Regions from separate parts of the Homo sapiens genome. Here region 2 is linked to region 1. The links come from fine-mapping of genetic effects on gene expression. A gene starts in region 1. The other region holds a variant in brackets. All regions are shown on one strand. Distances are between the middles of the regions.

What was found.
Region 2: its variant is fine-mapped to the expression of FOXQ1 in thyroid (GTEx, PIP above 0.99).

The regions. Positions count from the first base shown.
Region 1 is chr6:1,308,320-1,316,646 of GRCh38, reverse strand. It overlaps FOXQ1 (forkhead box Q1), which reads right to left and starts at 4,549. Exons shown (of 1, transcript NM_033260.4): 1 at 1,889-4,549. The coding sequence starts at 3,942. The coding sequence ends at 2,731. RefSeq lists an enhancer at 3,379-4,095.
Region 2 is chr6:1,228,070-1,236,396 of GRCh38, reverse strand. No RefSeq gene overlaps it. Among named protein-coding and RNA genes, the nearest start is that of FOXQ1, 80 kb to the left of the region's middle. The variant G/T (reference allele first, on the strand shown) is at 4,611.

The DNA of each region.
Region 1 (8,327 bases):
TGCAGCTTTCTGCCTTCATTGAGAAAACGGGAGCTGTGCCGTCGCCTTTCCTCCTGGGCTGCCTCCGACCCAGCACTGAGAAACCGAAACTCCCCGGGGCTGGGTGTGTGAAGGAGGGACAGGGAGGAGGCGACAGCCCAGGACCCTCCAATGCCCCCGCCCCGCCCGCCCAGTGTGATGTCCTTCTAGTCGTGGGATACTGAGCTTGGAAATGGTCATGAAATAGGGGTGCAAAACTCAAGCGACTCTGACAATTTTTTAGAAACGCTTATAGTCCCTGGGGAAACAAAGAAGGGGACCAGAAGCTAGGAGGGGACAGCATCCTACCAGACTCCAGGGTGTTCATTAGCAAGGAAGGATTTATTTTTTCTTTTGAGGGGAGGGCGGAACAGCCGGGATTTTTGGAACACTACCTTTGTCTTTCACTTTGCTGTTTGTGTGTTAACACGAATAAATCAGAAGCGACTTTAAATCTCCCTTCGCAGGACTGTCTTCACGTATCAGTGCAGACAAGAAAACAGTGGCTTTACAAAAAAGATGTTCAAGTAGGCTGCACTTTGCCTCTGTGGGTGAGGCACACTGTGGGAGAGACAAGGTCCCCTGGAACCAGAGGTGGGAAGGACAGAGCTGGCTGACTCCCTGCTCTCCCGCATTCTCTCCTCCATGTGTTTTGAAGAGGGAAGCAACATGTTGAGGTCTGATCATTTCTACCCAGGGAACCTGTTGTCCCCTGCCCCTAGTTGCTGGTCTGTTTCAGGTTTATTTTGGGGTCGGATTATTGGCCCTGTGGGTGCAAATGTCTACCTCTTGCCGTAATTCAACCCTATTATTATCACTCTTTATGATTACTAAGTAGATGTCATCCAAATCAGTCAAGACTCATCATCTGTTAACCTGATTTAGGGAAGATTGTTTCTCTCCCATTCCTGCCAAAAGAGAGCATCCTGAAATAAACGCCACCCTCCTTCCCCACCTCATTATATGTAGAGCTCAAATCATCCTCCTGTCCTGGGTAAGATGGGATCTACCCAAGAATGGCAGCCATGGCAATGAGGCCTGTTTCTAGTCTCTGCATTTCCCACAGTTTGTATTACTCTCTAAAATTTTGCAATCCATGCATTGTTAAAACTGTATTGCCTAGGAACCTACTGAAGAACAGGTGTTCACCCTGGTACTCCCACTGATGAAAATCCTCCGTTACATTTATAATATGGGAAACTGTCTCTCCCTCTCTCCAGGAGGCATTTTCTCTTCAGACTGCAACTGAAACATGCAAGACATTGCCACTGCTTCAAGTGAAATCTTTACAGATGAGGGAAGAGTGAAAAAAATACTACCCATTGGTTCACACCCAGTTGAACTTTTGCATTCCTAAAAAGGTGGATGGTTTTGTTTTGACAAAAACACTATGACATTTAAATTGCTTTTGAAATTGCCCTGAAGACACCTTTGATATTTTAAGATAGTCTTATGACAAAAAAGTTGTCAAAAAAATTGGGGCTCCAACTTTTTGAGCCCCAAATCGAAACCAATTTACCTGAAAATATCTGTTTGACTCTAGGCTTGTTAAGAACTCAACTTGCCTGCTAAGGATTCTTGGGGGAGAGAGGGACACTTCCCTCTCATTTGTTCTGGAAGCACTTAGGTGACTAATTAGAGGAGTAATTGGTTTTCAACTTTTAAAAAGCCCATGAATGGAAGTCCTATCTGGAAATCTGTCTAGCAATGCATCTCATACGGAAATCTGCAAGCCCATTCTATAATACCTTTATCGAATTATTCAGGAAAATATTTTTATCTCCAGAGGAAGTTTCTTGAGACCAAAACCTGAGCCCATTTTTTTGGGAGGGGGGACAGACATAAAAATCTCTCCACTTCCAACCCATCATCACAATGTGTTAAGTCAGTTGTTTTATTAAAAAATAAGCACTATGCTTGGGTTTCATAAAATTTATACATGAATATGTACACAGACACAAATAAAATAATATTAAAAATAAAAATCACACTTGCTTTCAAGGCAGTGGTCCTGGCACCCCACATACATAATCAACTTTTCCTTTAAAGAAATTGCTTGGCCCAAGGAGACCACAGTTAGAGAACCACTAATAAAGCTGTAGCCCGTTGCCTGCAACATTTTCAATTCGGGTTTCAAAAATATATAAATAATTTAATTACAAAACCCAACATTTTTTTTCTCTTTTGGCACAGTGAAGCATCGGTCAATAGCAAGAAATCACTGAAGAGCCTCTGACATGTCTCTCACACTCAGTCATACCTGGAAATGCCACATACGTACACGGATGGGGGCCCAGAAACCCCAAACAGTAGTCATATCATTTATAGTGTGGAAAGGTTCCCTGATGTACTTAGGGGGGAGGGAAGGGACATAAATCAATGGAAGTTGCGACAAAAACAGTAGAAATAAGACGAAGCCTGGGCGTTAAAGAAAGACAAAAAAAGTCCTTATGAAGGGAAGGAGGAGCAGGCTTCGCAAAGAAACTAAAACAAGAATTGCTTTGGTCCTCTGTAAAGTTATAAAACACAAAGGAAAATATCCTGGACTAAGTTTAAATACTCCTGTCAAAATGCTTTAGCTTTAAGGCACGTTTGATGGAGATTTTAAAAATTCATCTTCCTCTGGATTCAAAGTGCAAAGTCCGCGCGCGGGCCCGCGTTCCCGCCTCCCCGACGGCGCGCACTCGGCGTTCCCGGGCCCCGCGGCGCTACTCAGGCTAGGAGCGTCTCCACCGGGTACGGCAGGTGCGGGCCAGGGCGGCGGACTGAGGCCGCCTGCAGGGCTGCGGGCAGCCGCAGGGGGCAGTACAGGTGCGCGCCGCCGGCCGCCGGGCCTCGGAGTGGCTTGGCGGGGGCCGCCGCCGGGAGAGGTGCAAGCAGGAGGGGCGGCGCGGTCGGTGGCACCTCGGCCTCGCGCGCGCCCAGCCGCGCCGGCTCGCCCGCGCCGTACGCGCAGAGCGGCAGCAGGGCCCTGCAGGGCGCCGCGGGGAGGAGCGCGGGGAACGCGGGCAGCGGCGGGCAGGGCGCGGCGCCCCACTGAAGCGTCGTCCCGGGGGCCGTGTCCCTGAGGCGGCGGCTGCGGAAGGGCTTGCGCAGGATGCTGTCGATGGCGAAGGAGCTGGAGAACTTGCCCGCGGGGCTGGCGCGCTCCTCCTGGCGGGCGGGCGAGCGCATGCGGGGCGAGGCCGGGGCGGCGGGCGCGGGCGGCGGGGCGGCGGGGAGGCCCGGGGCCTCCTCGGGCCGCAGCCCGGGCGCGGGGACCGGCGCGCGGTGGCTGAGGCGCTTGCGGCGGCGGCGGAAGACCCCGTCGGCGAAGGTGTACTCGCTGTTGGGGTTGAGCATCCAGTAGTTGTCCTTGCCCCAGGGCCGCGAGGGGTCGCGCAGCACCTTGACGAAGCAGTCGTTGAGCGAAAGGTTGTGGCGCACGGAGTTGCGCCAGCCCGTGTAGCTGCCGCGGAAAAAGGGGAACTTGCCCATGAGGTACTCGTTGATCTCCGCCAGCGTCAAGCGCCCGCCCGCCGAGTCGCGGATGGCCATGGCGATGAGCGCGATGTACGAGTAGGGGGGCTTGGGCCGCCGCGTATATGGCTTGCTGCGTGCACCCTCGCCGCTCCCCGCGCCGCCCGCGCCTGGCCCCGCCGCCCCGGCCTCCGCGCCCTCCGCCACCACCGCTGCAGCAGCTGCTGCCGGGATCGCCTCCTCCGCGCCCGGCCCGCCTCCCGCACTCTGTTCGCCGTCGCCCTGCGTATCTCTGGCGCCGCCGCCCGCGGCCGGGCTGTTGGCCGCGCAGTCCCCATCTGAGCCCAGGGAGTCGTCTCCCGCCGCCGACAGCGGGGACGGCGCGTCGCTGCCGCCCGCGCCCTCCAGGTCACTGCCCTGCTTGTCCCCGTGGGCCGCGCGAGGGACGAACACCTCCAACTTCATGCCCGCGCACCCAGTCCCTCCCCGGCGTCGTACCCTCTTCCTTCGCGCAGCCTAGAGAAGCTGGTGCCAGGGAAGGGGATGGCGATCCGGGGCCGGGGATCTTCGCCTTTTTCTCCCGGGAGCTCTACCCTGGTCTTCCGAGATAGTCACTTTTCCGGAGTCCTCTTCCGCTGGGCTTTTTCTCTGGAGGGGCTGCAAGTGTTGGGTGGACTATGGGGCGGAGAGGGAGGAGTTGGGTGGGTGTCGCCTTCGGTTCGACGTTGAGACTTTGGGGTGAGTGTGTGCAGGGGCCGCGGTTCCACCCTCGGGTGCCCGAGCACGCCGGGCTTAGAAGGCTTTCCTGCCGGAGAGAAGCAGCATGCGCATCTGCTGCTCGTTAAAGAGCCCAGGAGGGGTTCTTCACTGGCGGTCCCAGGTCCCGCGCGGGCGTCTTCGGGGCACGGAAATGGTGCCGGATGATGTGCGTGCCACCGTGGGGGAAGGTCCGGCGCCTTCAGCCTTGAGCACCCGCGGAGGCGAGTCCCCGAGGCCGCTGCGCCCGCAGCCGCCTTCCCGCTCCCAGCCTCCGGGGCAGCATCTCCCCGCTGGCCTGCCGCGGCTGCGTCTCGCCTCCACCTTCGGGCCGGCCCAATATAACCCTGCGGCGGCTCCGCGGGGGCGGGGCCTGAGCGCGGACGGCAAGGGGTGGGGGAACGAGGTGGCCGAGGTGGTGGCGGCTCCCCAGTTCCCCAGCTCCCCAACGGGCGCGCACCAGGCGGAGGCCACACTGCAGCGCGGCGGCAAAGTCGCTGGCGCAGGTTGTTTGTTTTGGGTCGGCCGGCCCCGCCTTCCTCCTCCCGCCAATGGGGAGCGCGCGCGCCGCTGTGGGTTTGCGCGTGTCTGTGAGTGTGCGTGTGTGCGCGCGCGGGGCCGCTCCGCCAGCCGGCTCCTCCGTTCAGGTGTGGGCCCCAGCCCCGGGCAGCCCGCGAGGGCTCCCTGCGCCCTGGAGTTCGGGGACGCAGTTTAGGCGAGTGCGCCTGGTTGGGGGGACACGCCACAGTTCCCCTAGGGGGACACCTGAAGGGACTGGGTCTAGGGGAGCAGGGACTTTGCTCGGGCCTAAGCTGCACGCGGCGTATGTGCTTCTGTAGTAGTGAAAACGATGCTGCTTACGAAAGCAAACCCCTGTCGTCACTGCAGAGGTGCTGAACAGAAATTGCGCAGGACACTTGCAGTGACCTCTTTCGGGAGCCTTGTGCTGTGCCCCTTCCTATGAGCTCCTTTCAAGGACCATCTTGTCTTTTCCTCTTGTTTTAATGAATGCACTCCTGGGCTTGAAATTGTATGCGCCTTTTTGGATGACCTTTACTCTTGCTCACTAAATGGGCTCCGACTTTCACTTTTCTTTGTCTTACTTTACCTTTTTCTTTACCTGGCTGGTGACTCCTGCGGGAGGACAGCAGCGTCCTCCTCTTCCCCTGGGGCGGCTGTGTCTGGCGCAGGGTGCTGGGCTGTGCCTGCACTTGTGTCCCTGCGGAAGCCTCAGATGCCGCCGAGCTCCGCCGCTTGGTTCCCGGGATCTGACAGTCAACAGGAACGACGGAGAGGGCGTGTTCCCGGGGGCGGGGGCAAGAACAAACCGGTTCACGGCCATTTCTTTCCAATATTCCTTTGGGACTTTTGCTGTGACCTCACTGGCACCAGTGTCGGACAATCTCGAAAGGGGGGACCGTTCCTCACCCCAGGGCGCCCGGGGCGTGATCCCCACGCGGCGTCATTAGTCCAGGGAGCGGGCGCCTCGGCCCCGGGAAGGTGCACTTCCAGCCCGCTGCCCTGCCACGCCGAGTTTCCTCCTTTTTCCTGCCTTTGTTGCACAAAAAGCGACGGAGCCGCTAGTAGGTGGGAGCTCACCTTTGATGTTTATTTTATTACTTTCCACCATTTGTGTTGAAAACGTACACAATCCTCTCTTATCTTTATTCAGGGAGTTTTGAAGCCATTCACAATGGGGCGGGCAACATGACAGCCCCAGCCACAGCTCTGTTATTTTTGTATTTGGGGAAGGATCGCGTTCGGAGATTAGACTGACTTTATTAAGTATGCGCCTCGGGAGCCAGGTGGGGAATGGCTGCTTTTTGGGAGATGAGCCTTTCTGGAGGGGTCTGCTCAGCTCTAGCCTTGGAGTTGATGGTTCACTAGACCTGGAGAGGGAAGTGGGATGAGACAAATATGTATATCTATATATATATAGCGAGGTAAAGAGGCTTGGATTTGGCCAGGGATAAAAGGCGTTCGTAATGAATGTTTTTCTCTCTTGAACTCTGGGGTTGGGCAGGGCAGGAGGGCACATGACTATTTGATGGGGAAGGTAAAGCCAAGGAGGCTTGAGGTGGGACCCGTGGTCGCTACAGAGTCCAAGGGAGGCCTCTTCGAGACTCCAGGGCCAAGGTGTCCTGCCACCAAGGAATGCTGGTCGCCGCCAGGGAAGGTGGCTCACCCCACCTCCATGTCCCACTTTCCCCCTTTCTTACCCAACCTCCTCCCCTCCCCAGCTGCAGGGGATCCTCTCCTTACCCTGATTTCATTTGGGGCAAGGGGGGCAAGGACCTGCCCCACCTTTTATGTCTATCCTGTGGGCTGCTGTCTGCAAGTTTGGAGCCTGAAAAGGTTGGGGGGCAAGAGAGTGAGTTGGAGGTGGGTGAATTCTCAGCTGGAAACCCTTTGCTATTTTTAGAGTGACTTAGGGAATGGGCAGGTGAGAGGTTGCTTGCAGCCACCTAAGTGGACTTTGAGAAGGAAGATGGCATGGCAGGCCGTGGACCACCTGGATAGGATTAAAACAAAACAAAAACAAGCAAACAAACAAAAAAAAACCCTACCTCAGCTAGAATGGAAGCTCCACTAGAGCAGGGTTTTTTTCTTTTTTTCTTCATGACTGTATTCCCCTATCCTTGACACATGAATGTGCCATTTGCTGAGGATAACATGATTGTCTTCTGTTAAAACCAGAAATAACACTGCTTTTTCCATTTGTGGTTGATGTCGGTATCAATTTTAGCTGTTGTTTTACAGCGGGGAAATCATTCACCTTTTGCAGCTATCAGAGAAACCGAGAATGTATGGAGCAGGGCGTGTCTATCCACAACACCCTCAAGGCTGAATACAGTTGGGGAGACCAGACGCTGCCAGACGTCACATGCATTTTTTTAAAGTTTCCCAGAAGTGCTTGGATATTTCTGCCCCTTAATTCCCATTCCTTGGGGAGTACATTGATGGGTTAATAAAAAATGCCTGCAGGTGGAGCTTGACCAAACACTTGTAGGTAAGAAACACCTATTAGCTTATTTTCCCCCTTGCCCTTTAATTTCCATGGAGATAAGTGAATAAACTATGGCAAAAGATAAGTTCATATTTCCATGATCGTATGACCTCCCTGAAGTGGTGATTTTAGGAAGATAGTGCATGTATCTCTGGGCACAAAGTAACTTAATTAACTGTGGAAACTATCTGCAAATTTAACGCTTTCCATAATTTGATAGTGCTTCACTGACCCAGTTCCTAAACACTAATCTTGGGAAGAAAATAATTTAATTCCTAAAATACCTAAGGTGACTCCCTGTGGAAATATTGATGACTTGCCCTATGCATTAGAAGATCACGCAGGCTCCCAGCCCAAAGGGACTACAGAACAATCTTGATCACATCCACCCAGCAACCTGGAAACAGCTTTGAATTTCTTGTCGTGTTAACCTCTGGATCTGAAGAGAGGGTAAACTTAAAATTACCTTCCCATGGGGACCTGGGACTCTGGATGAATCTACAGTACAATGCTGTGAAGAACTGAAGAGCCTCAGGCTTAGAGACCAGGCTAATGTTGAGAGTCCCAGGGCAAAATGCATGGCTCTGAATCCTTGCAGAGTCTCCCTAGGGGCATGGAGAGGGCCCTGACTTGGGGCTCGAGGTCAGGTGGCAGTGAAGGGCCTCTACAGCGATAAAGCCCAGCTGCCTCTTTACCTTTCCTCATAGTGAAAATACATGGGAAGAAAAGGAGTGCTTTGTCCAACTCTGTTCTAGCCCATTTCATGGTCTGGTTGATTCTTTTGGTAGATGCTGAACACTGGAAAAATCCTGCAAGGATTGAAGGTGAGTGTGGAAGTAGACGGAGAAAACTTAGGCATTTTTACGTGTCTGTATTTTTGCTTCTTTCCAAAAATGTTTTAATAGGGTCAGGCTCATTTGTTTGTACATTTACCATGTTTGTTTGAACAGTCTTCTTTCGGTTTCTTGAGCAATGGGCATGGTTTAATCCAAGAATCTTAGAATTTGGCTGGGCATTACTGACCAGGTGCAAAACCAAGGGCTGTGCCTGAAGTTTTCTTTTGAGACCTCAGGAATTATAAGCAGCA
Region 2 (8,327 bases), 80 kb after region 1:
CTCAGAAAAGTGTGTGCAGGGATTTTGAAATTTACCTGCCAAAAGAGTCTTTAAAGGTTGCACAGTGAGGCTGAGGAAGACCTGTTAACATGCCACAGGGTACCTGTGCTTCTCACAGTGCTGCTTGGGAAACAGTACATCATGATTCTAAGGAGGCAGACACCACATTGTGCTGGAGGCTCGGGGCCTCCCTCCTTTTGTATCCTTGCCTGCACAGGCAATGGTGTGGATGCTGTTCACTTTCTAGGTTTTGACTCCATAGTGCCTGACCCAGTGCTGGACAAGGCAGGGAGAAGGTGTGTAGACTCAGAACCCCCAGTGCAGCTGGAGGCTGATGCGTGCTCTAAGAAAGCCCCAGGCTGCTTCCCCAGTGCCTGCAGCATGAGCCAGCTTCTGCCAGTATTCCCCAGAAGTGGATGTGTGTGACTGTGCAGCTGTGTGCTTTCTTTGCACATGTGCCCATTTCTGCATGCAAAAGAGCTCATGGGACATAGGGAGCAGAGAGGGAGCAGGCAGACGGCGCTGCTTAGCCTGACTTCTCCCGGTGACCCATGGAAACGTTCCTAATGTTTTCTAAGAGTGTAGGTTCTGGTCTAAACACTTTCATTTTTGGAATGGAGGAAGGTGCTGCATTTTCAGTTAAGGCTGCTGAGGTGACTGAGCCTCATTCAGGGATATGCAGGGACTACAGACTTAGGCATCTCTGGGACCAAACTGTCTCAGGAAGTCAGAAGGATATTAAAGGATATTGGGAGTGCCTTTCCCTGTTAGTGTCAGCTAGCTAGTTGTTTTCTCTTCTTTACTAATAATAATATCTAAGACAGCTGATTGAAACTCCAGGCCTGGAGTCCTACCTGGAAACTCAGTCTGCTTGGCTAGGACCCCCACAAATGATAACTTTTGCTCTCTTCATTGGTCCCTCCCCATGGGACACAGAGATGCTCCTCAGTGGGTCCTAAGACCACCCTCCACACTGAGGGGGATTGCAGTGGTGTCATTTCCTAGAACCATTTCCTAGAACTACAGAATGCTGTGGCCGCCTCTCTCCTGCCCACTGCCCCTCCTTGGGCATTGATGCTGGATTGAACTATGTCCAGGCATCACTGGGTGCTGAGTACCTCCCTCACTGCCCGTCCTGGCGTCACTGGGTGCTGGGTACCTCCCTCACTCCCCATCCGGGCGTCACTGGGTGCTGGGTACCTCCCTCACTCCCCATCCGGGCGTCACTGGGTGCTGGGTACCTCCCTCACTCCCCATCCGGGCGTCACTGGGTGCTGGGTACCTCCCTCACTCCCCATCCGGGCGTCACTGGGTGCTGGGTACCTCCCTCACTCCCCATCCGGGCGTCACTGGGTGCTGGGTACCTCCCTCACTCCCCATCCGGGCGTCACTGGGTGCTGGGTACCTCCCTCACTCCCCATCCGGGCGTCACTGGGTGCTGGGTACCTCCCTCACTCCCTATCCGGGCGTCACTGGGTGCTGGGTACCTCCCTCACTCCCTATCCGGGCGTCACTGGGTGCTGGGTACCTCCTTCACTCCCCATCCGGGTGTCACTGGGTGCTGGGTACCTCCCTCACTCTCCATCTGGGTGTCACTGGGTGCTGGGTACCTCCCTCACTCCCAACCCCGGTTCCTCTGTAGCTTGTGCACCTCCTTTCTTTCCTGGATTCTCCTTCCCCTCTGGTCATTGAGGTTCCAGATGCCTCAAAGAAGACACTGCAAATGGAAGGAAGTATATGGCTTTTGAGATGGATGGTGATGGCTGGCTGGGGCCTTGTCAGGTGTAGATTTTGACCATCAGACCTTCAAGGAGGTGGGGAGGCGTTGGGGTGAAGAGCTGGGGAGGAGCTCAGAGGCTAGAAGCCATGTCCCTTGGCTAAATGGCCAAGGACCTGTGCTCTCAGAGGTGCAAAGAAGCCCAAGGGGGCAGACTGGGAACTTTCTGATGGGCTTTGATAGAAAAAGAACCTGTAATGTGGGAGAGGATGCACATCACCAGAGACAGAGCCTGGAGAGGCACAGGCTGCAGGGGAGTGCCGGGAAGGCTAAGTTTCCCAGGCAGCGAGGCTGCTGAAAGAGGCACGGCTGGGTATAAAGGGGTTTTCCAAATCTACCGGTGGAGCAACGAGAAGAGTGAGGATGGGCCAGGCCTCTGACATCACAGAGGATGTGTTGCTAACAGGAGACGGGAGAAAGCCTGCTCTCTATCAGGGAGAACTATCTTCGTGTCCCAAAGGGATTAAGAGGTGACCAAATCACACCAGCGTGATTAAGAGGCGACAGAAGCTTAGACGGATGAAGAAAGTTAGAAAGCCCCAGGTGGCTTTGGGTGAGTCTGCGACATGAATCCTGATGCGTTGATTGCATTTTGTGTTGGTGGAAGAAGCTGATGAGTCCACAGAGCCACAGTCAGCGCACTTAGAAGAAAGACTGAGAATGAGGACTATTCAAAAGAACAGGCAGATGTGCCTGGGTCAGGGAGATGCCGGCAGGCGAGGTCCTCCCGGTCCCCCGACAGCCTCCTCTGGCTTCTTCCTGCCCACACATAGACATGCCTGTAGTTCTCCTGCTTCCAGGGTGTGGAACACTTTTGGTCCTTGAACCTTTCCGTGTACTTCTACCTAGAGTCCCTTCTCCAACCTCACCCTAGGGATGCATTACTTTTACAATTACCATTGTACATTGTAATGGTATAATTGGAAATTTATACAATTATACTTTTTTTTTTTTTTTTTTTGAGATGGAGTCTTCCTCTGTCACCCAGATTGGAGTGCAGTGGCGCGATCTGGGCTCACTGCAACCTCCGCCTCCTGGGTCCAAGCGATTCTCCTGCCCCAGCCTCCCAAGTAGCTGGGATTAAAGTGTGCACCACCACATCCAGCTAATTTTTTTGTGTTTTCAGTAGAGACAGGGTTTCGCCATGTTAGCCAGGCTGGTCTCAAACTCCTGACCTCAGGTGATCCCACTGCCTCAGCCTCCCAAAGTGCTAGGATTACACTGCGCCTGGCTCAATTATACTTTTAAATTAGAACATTGAAGACCCAGTGCTCAGACAAGACCCTAACCTTAGACATGACTTCCTGTGTGCAGAAAGAACCCACCAGTGTACACAGTTACTGCCTTTTATTTCATATTTTATATTAACTTTTTGGCCCCAAGGAAACTTAGTGTGCCTCTTTCAGAATTTAAAATAGTACTCGGATTTCATAAGATCCCGAAGGTAGATGTCCTTCAATCACCAACGTTTTTCTCATTCACATCTTCAATAGTCTTTCCTAAGAGAAAGGCCAACGCCATGCTTCTGTTGGAAAGTTGGCCCTGAATCCAGGCAGACTTTGGAGTAAAATCCAGCTACCTAGAACCATCAACGCCCTGCATGGACCCAGAGAGTCTTCCCAGCCCGGTGTCCTCTCCTTTCATATCCCCAGGCAGCCGAGGGTCTCCTCTCTCCCAAGGTGGGAAGCAAATCCTATATCCATGAACAACATGGACTCTCTCAGGGTAGGTGGACGCTGTGAATGCAGCCTACAGCTGCCCCCAGTTTTTGAGCAGTTACACAGTGTGGTTCATAACAGCCATACATGTAAGTCAGGGTTTACCAATGTCCACACTGGTGACATCGGGGCAGGCTGCATGTTTACAGTGGGGACTGTCCTGTGCACTGTAGGATGTTTAGAACATCCCTATCCTCTATCCACTGAGTGCCAGGAGCACCCCTTCCTTCAACTGTGATGACCCAAAATGTCTGTAGACATTGCCAGATGTCCCCTTGATGGGGTTCTTTCTGGGAGGCAAAATTGCACTACCTATTGAAAACCACTGGTATACATAGAACAACCAGGGTATTTTTTGTAAGGGAGAGGCGGGTGGGTGACATGTGGGTAAGACATGATGAATCCTGACAGTCTAAATTCTGCCTGTTGGAAATAGAGTTCATTTTTATGTATCCCAAAAACTGTATGAGAGGAAAGAAATGTGTTCTGGTGTGTATCAGGTAGATCTTAAAATAAAATACAGTTGTGAATCTCTTGGGGCCAAATTAATTAATGATTTAGCACTTTCAAAAAATAGGTGTATCTGTCCTAATGTATCCAAGCAGCCTCCAGCATTCAAATGCCACAAGCAGCCTTTTGTGGTATTTCTTCCATCCCATTTTGAAGAAGTCATCTGAGCATGAAGAATCTTTTGAGTCAAAATGTGAGTAATTGTGCTGACTTGTTCTAAACAGCTAACGAGAATCTCTCACTCGAGTGTAAATTTGGGGTGTGTAGGTTTGAGTAAGGCAGTTTATGTAAGATGGGTGTGTTGGTTTGTTAACCAAGGCATTAAGGAGAGGGGTGGTGTGTATCAGCGAATCAAGTGTTGTTGATAGGAGACAGGAAGAAATCGCCTTCTATTGTTCTGTTGTACAATGTGCCTGGGGTTTTACCTTGCTGGCACTTTCTAACTCTGGCTTCCTGACTCCAGAACTGTTTCAAAAACCATTTTCACACCACATTCCTACAATCCTACTGTGTTTTCCATTGGAAATGCCATTTCTGCAATTTTTCACGTCTGTTTAGTTATTTTAGAACCTTGGAATGGGAAGCACCTCAAGATTAAAACCAAA[G/T]TAAACTGATAAAAAATAACACACTTTTCTCCAACCATAACATGTACCTAATTTGTGCAGTGACAGGCTCAGGGAGGAAAGAAGTGTGGGGCCCGTGGAGGACCTGGGGAAGCCACTGTCTGTGCGAGCTCCCATTGCCCTGGTCTTTTCACTGGTGAAGCATAAGAAATACAGGTGCCCGATCTTGACTCCTATGGAAAGCTTTAAGTGCCTCAGAGGTTCAGACAATCTCTTAACTTGTATTGAGCTACAGAGTTTGCTGTGCACTGGGAACCAAATTATAGCACTTTGGGAATTCTCCCCCAAATCAACAGGAAATAGATCTTTAAAGGTCTCTCAGCTGGGGCTTGGGTACAACGTTATTGGAAGGAATACCACTATCAAGACCTTGGTGTTCAAGCCCTCCTCATCAGTGAATCCAAGTAAAAGTGACTATTGCGTGCTTTGTGTTCTCTGCTAAATCAAATGCTATGGATTTCGTTTCTTTTGGCGTGTTTTGGAACCCTGGAACAGCTCTGGCTTTGGTGTTAAGTGCTTCCCTGGACGTAGCCAATGTGGACACTGCTGGCTCTGCAACCTGACTGGATGTGATGCAACATAGGACTGCATTGCCAAATATCCCACCTGAGTGTGGCTTAGTGAATTTCTCATTGCCAGTCCTGGAGTATCACCCTTCCGTGGTGAAAGCCTGGCTCACTCAGCCCCCCACAAGAGTGAGGCAGTGCATAAGCAGGGAATTCTGCACCTAGATGCAATGGGTTTAAGTTTTCTTCCCCAGATTTGTGGCATCAGAGGAAGACAGCCACAGAATTTTGGGCAAGGCACTCTAGATTATGGGGATTTAGTTTCCTTAGCAGTAAAAGGAAGGAGTTAACTTAGACCTCTTTGTTTCTAGCACTCTATTACTTTGAGTTTATTAGAGCAAGTGAGTACCTCTATCTGTAAGAGGAGACAAATAACATGAACTTAGGACCAAGAGGCTGTCTTCCCAGTGTTTGTTGGGGATGTTTACTTTGGGATAAATACTCTGAATAACGTCTCCTCTTTAACTCATTGAGAACACGTTTGTCTGCAACAGAAGCTGGCAAACTATGATCTTCTGGTCAAATGCAGCCTGCCTCCTCTTTTTATAAATAAATTTCTACAGGAGTACGGCCACGCTCATTCATTTAGACATAGACTGTGACTGCAGTTGCACTAGGAGGGCACGGTTGAGGGGGTAGGGCAGAGACCACCTGACCTACGAAGGCAAAAGTATTTGTGATCTGGCCCTTTACAAAAAAGTCTGTTGACCCCTGGTCTGGAACATCATTCATCCCATAATACTCACCCAGGTTCTGCAACGTGCCATGCTCCCTACCAGCTGTTGGGCACAGAGATAAGCCAGACCCAGTGCCCGACTTGGAAAGATTCCCAGCCTGGTGAATGTTCAATGAAGAAATTAGAGGTTTCTTTATTTAAAACAATAATACAGACAGCAATATTATTCACAAGAAGAATTGCACACTGTTTTTTATAAACACCAGTAGTGACGATTCTTCCCGTTCTCTTTATTGTATCTGTAAGAGATGTGGCTGCCTGTTTGGTAACGTTTCCTGTGTGTCTTTTTTTTTTATGCTAGATTTCAGTGTTCCTTAGAGCAAGGCAATATCTTTTTCTCAGTGAAATGAAAAAAGTAAAAATGATTCTTCACATCAGGTCCTGCTGAAAACATCCCGTGTGCCCATCTTCTACAAAGAGAGGCCAAACCCTTTTGTGCGGGTGCCGAGGCCTCGGTGTCCTGGCTGCCGCTCCCCTCCTGGCTCCCTCGTCCACTCGCCTTCTCTCATGCTCTCAGCTTGGATCTTGCTCAGGTGCTTGCAGTTTCCTGCAGTTTTGGGTCTTCTCGCCTTTCTGCACACCACTTTTCCACCTGATGTCACCCCTGCCCTTTCTTGTGTACCCCTTGAGTCCCCACTCTTTCCCTCAAGGCTCTGTTCAAGTCTCACCTCCTCTGATCCCTTCCTAGGCAAAGATGTTTACATTGTCTTTTGTGCAGCAACCACAGTTTGTATATAACTCCACTACTATACTTATTACACTATATTGTACATATTTGTCTATATCAGTGTTTCTCAGTACAGGGGAGAGTAGCGATTTTGTTCTTCAGAAAACATTTGGCAACATCTGTAGACATTTTTGGTTGTCACAACTTGGGGAGAGGTGGGTGCCATGCTCCCATGGGTGCGTGTAAAGGATGCTGAAGACATCTTACCACGCACAGGACAGCCCCACACACAGGCCCATCTGGCCCCAGGTGCCAACAGAGCCGAGGCTGGGAAACCTTGGTCTACATACCTGCCTTTCCCATTAGGCTGAGCTCCTCATCCGCAGGGGTTGAGACTGGTTCGTCTTTGCGTGTTCAGTGCCTGGCACATAGTGGGCAGTCCATCTTATTGAAAGAGTCAATGTCTTCCATGTATTTTGCCACCTGAAATCCATAGCACAGAGCTAGAGTTATAGCAGGTGCCAATAAACACATGTTGATGAATTGTTAACTGATGAAATGAGAGAAAGGAGAAACACCCTTGCTTGTAATCTGGTGACAAATTGGAACCCACTGCTCTCCAATGAAGTTAGCCTCCTTCAGATCAATCACAGCTTCAGAGGAAAAGGTCCTCTTTCTGCTCAGAATTGTTTGGCATAGAAAACATTTTCGCCATTCCAACCTCCTCGTTCTCACGAAGGGAAAGAAAGGAAGAGAGGATGGGTGCTCAGGTAAGGAGAACTGGCTGGGGCAGAGGGGGTACGCCGTCCTGCCCTGAGAGCCCTGTGAGAGAGTGAGGAGTTTGGATAGGCGTCGGCGTTGAGTGCACTTGGGAAAAACATGTCTCTTGAAACTTCACTGAGAGGTGATGCAAAAAATTCTGCTCCGTGCCCTGCAATTGTTGCCTCTGGGGCTCTACTATCCTCAAGAAAGTTGGGGAATTCCAGGCTGGAAATATTCAGAAAACCATTAGCTAGCTGTCATAATGGGGAGGTGGAGGGCAAGCTACGCAGAGGTCACAGATCATCTGAGGCATTGCTTCAGCGTATAAGCTTGCTTCCCACACAGCTCTTTGAAGAGTGGTTCATTAACCGGGCAGGAGACCACTGGTTTTGAAGCCTCTTTTTCTCTTGCTCAACCTTGGAAAGAGCTGGGTTCCAATGGGACCATCCAACTCACCAGCAGGTAAAGGTGTGAGACAGGGAAAGGGTGCATTTGCTGAATATCTAAATCCACTCGATAATGGTGTCTGCAGGCTTTGATCCTCAGTGCCAGAATTGTGAGTTCAAATGAAATCTGAGGATGGAATTAACTCCAGGCATTAAGAAGGGCAGAAGTGCAGTTTCTTTGTTGAAGGAGGCCACCCACTCGTAAGTTTACCTTGCTAGCCTGTAGCGCTCCAGGCAATCTGTCCTTTTTGAGCAGGTGCTGTGGAATACTATCTCCTAGATAAACCCTTGATTGTGGGCTTTGAGTTCTGGCGACCCATGTTTAAAGGGATCACGCCAGCCCATCAATGGTTAACCGTGGAGAAATGAACCTTCCCAGAGGAGGTTATTTGTTCTAGATGTTGCCGTTCTGGTGACTTCAAGGAAATGGTGTGTGATCGTGTTTGTATGTGTGTGGCTTCTCCTTTCTTAAACACATAGATTACAGTGTGATTACATTGTGATTTGGAAATCGGTGATTCT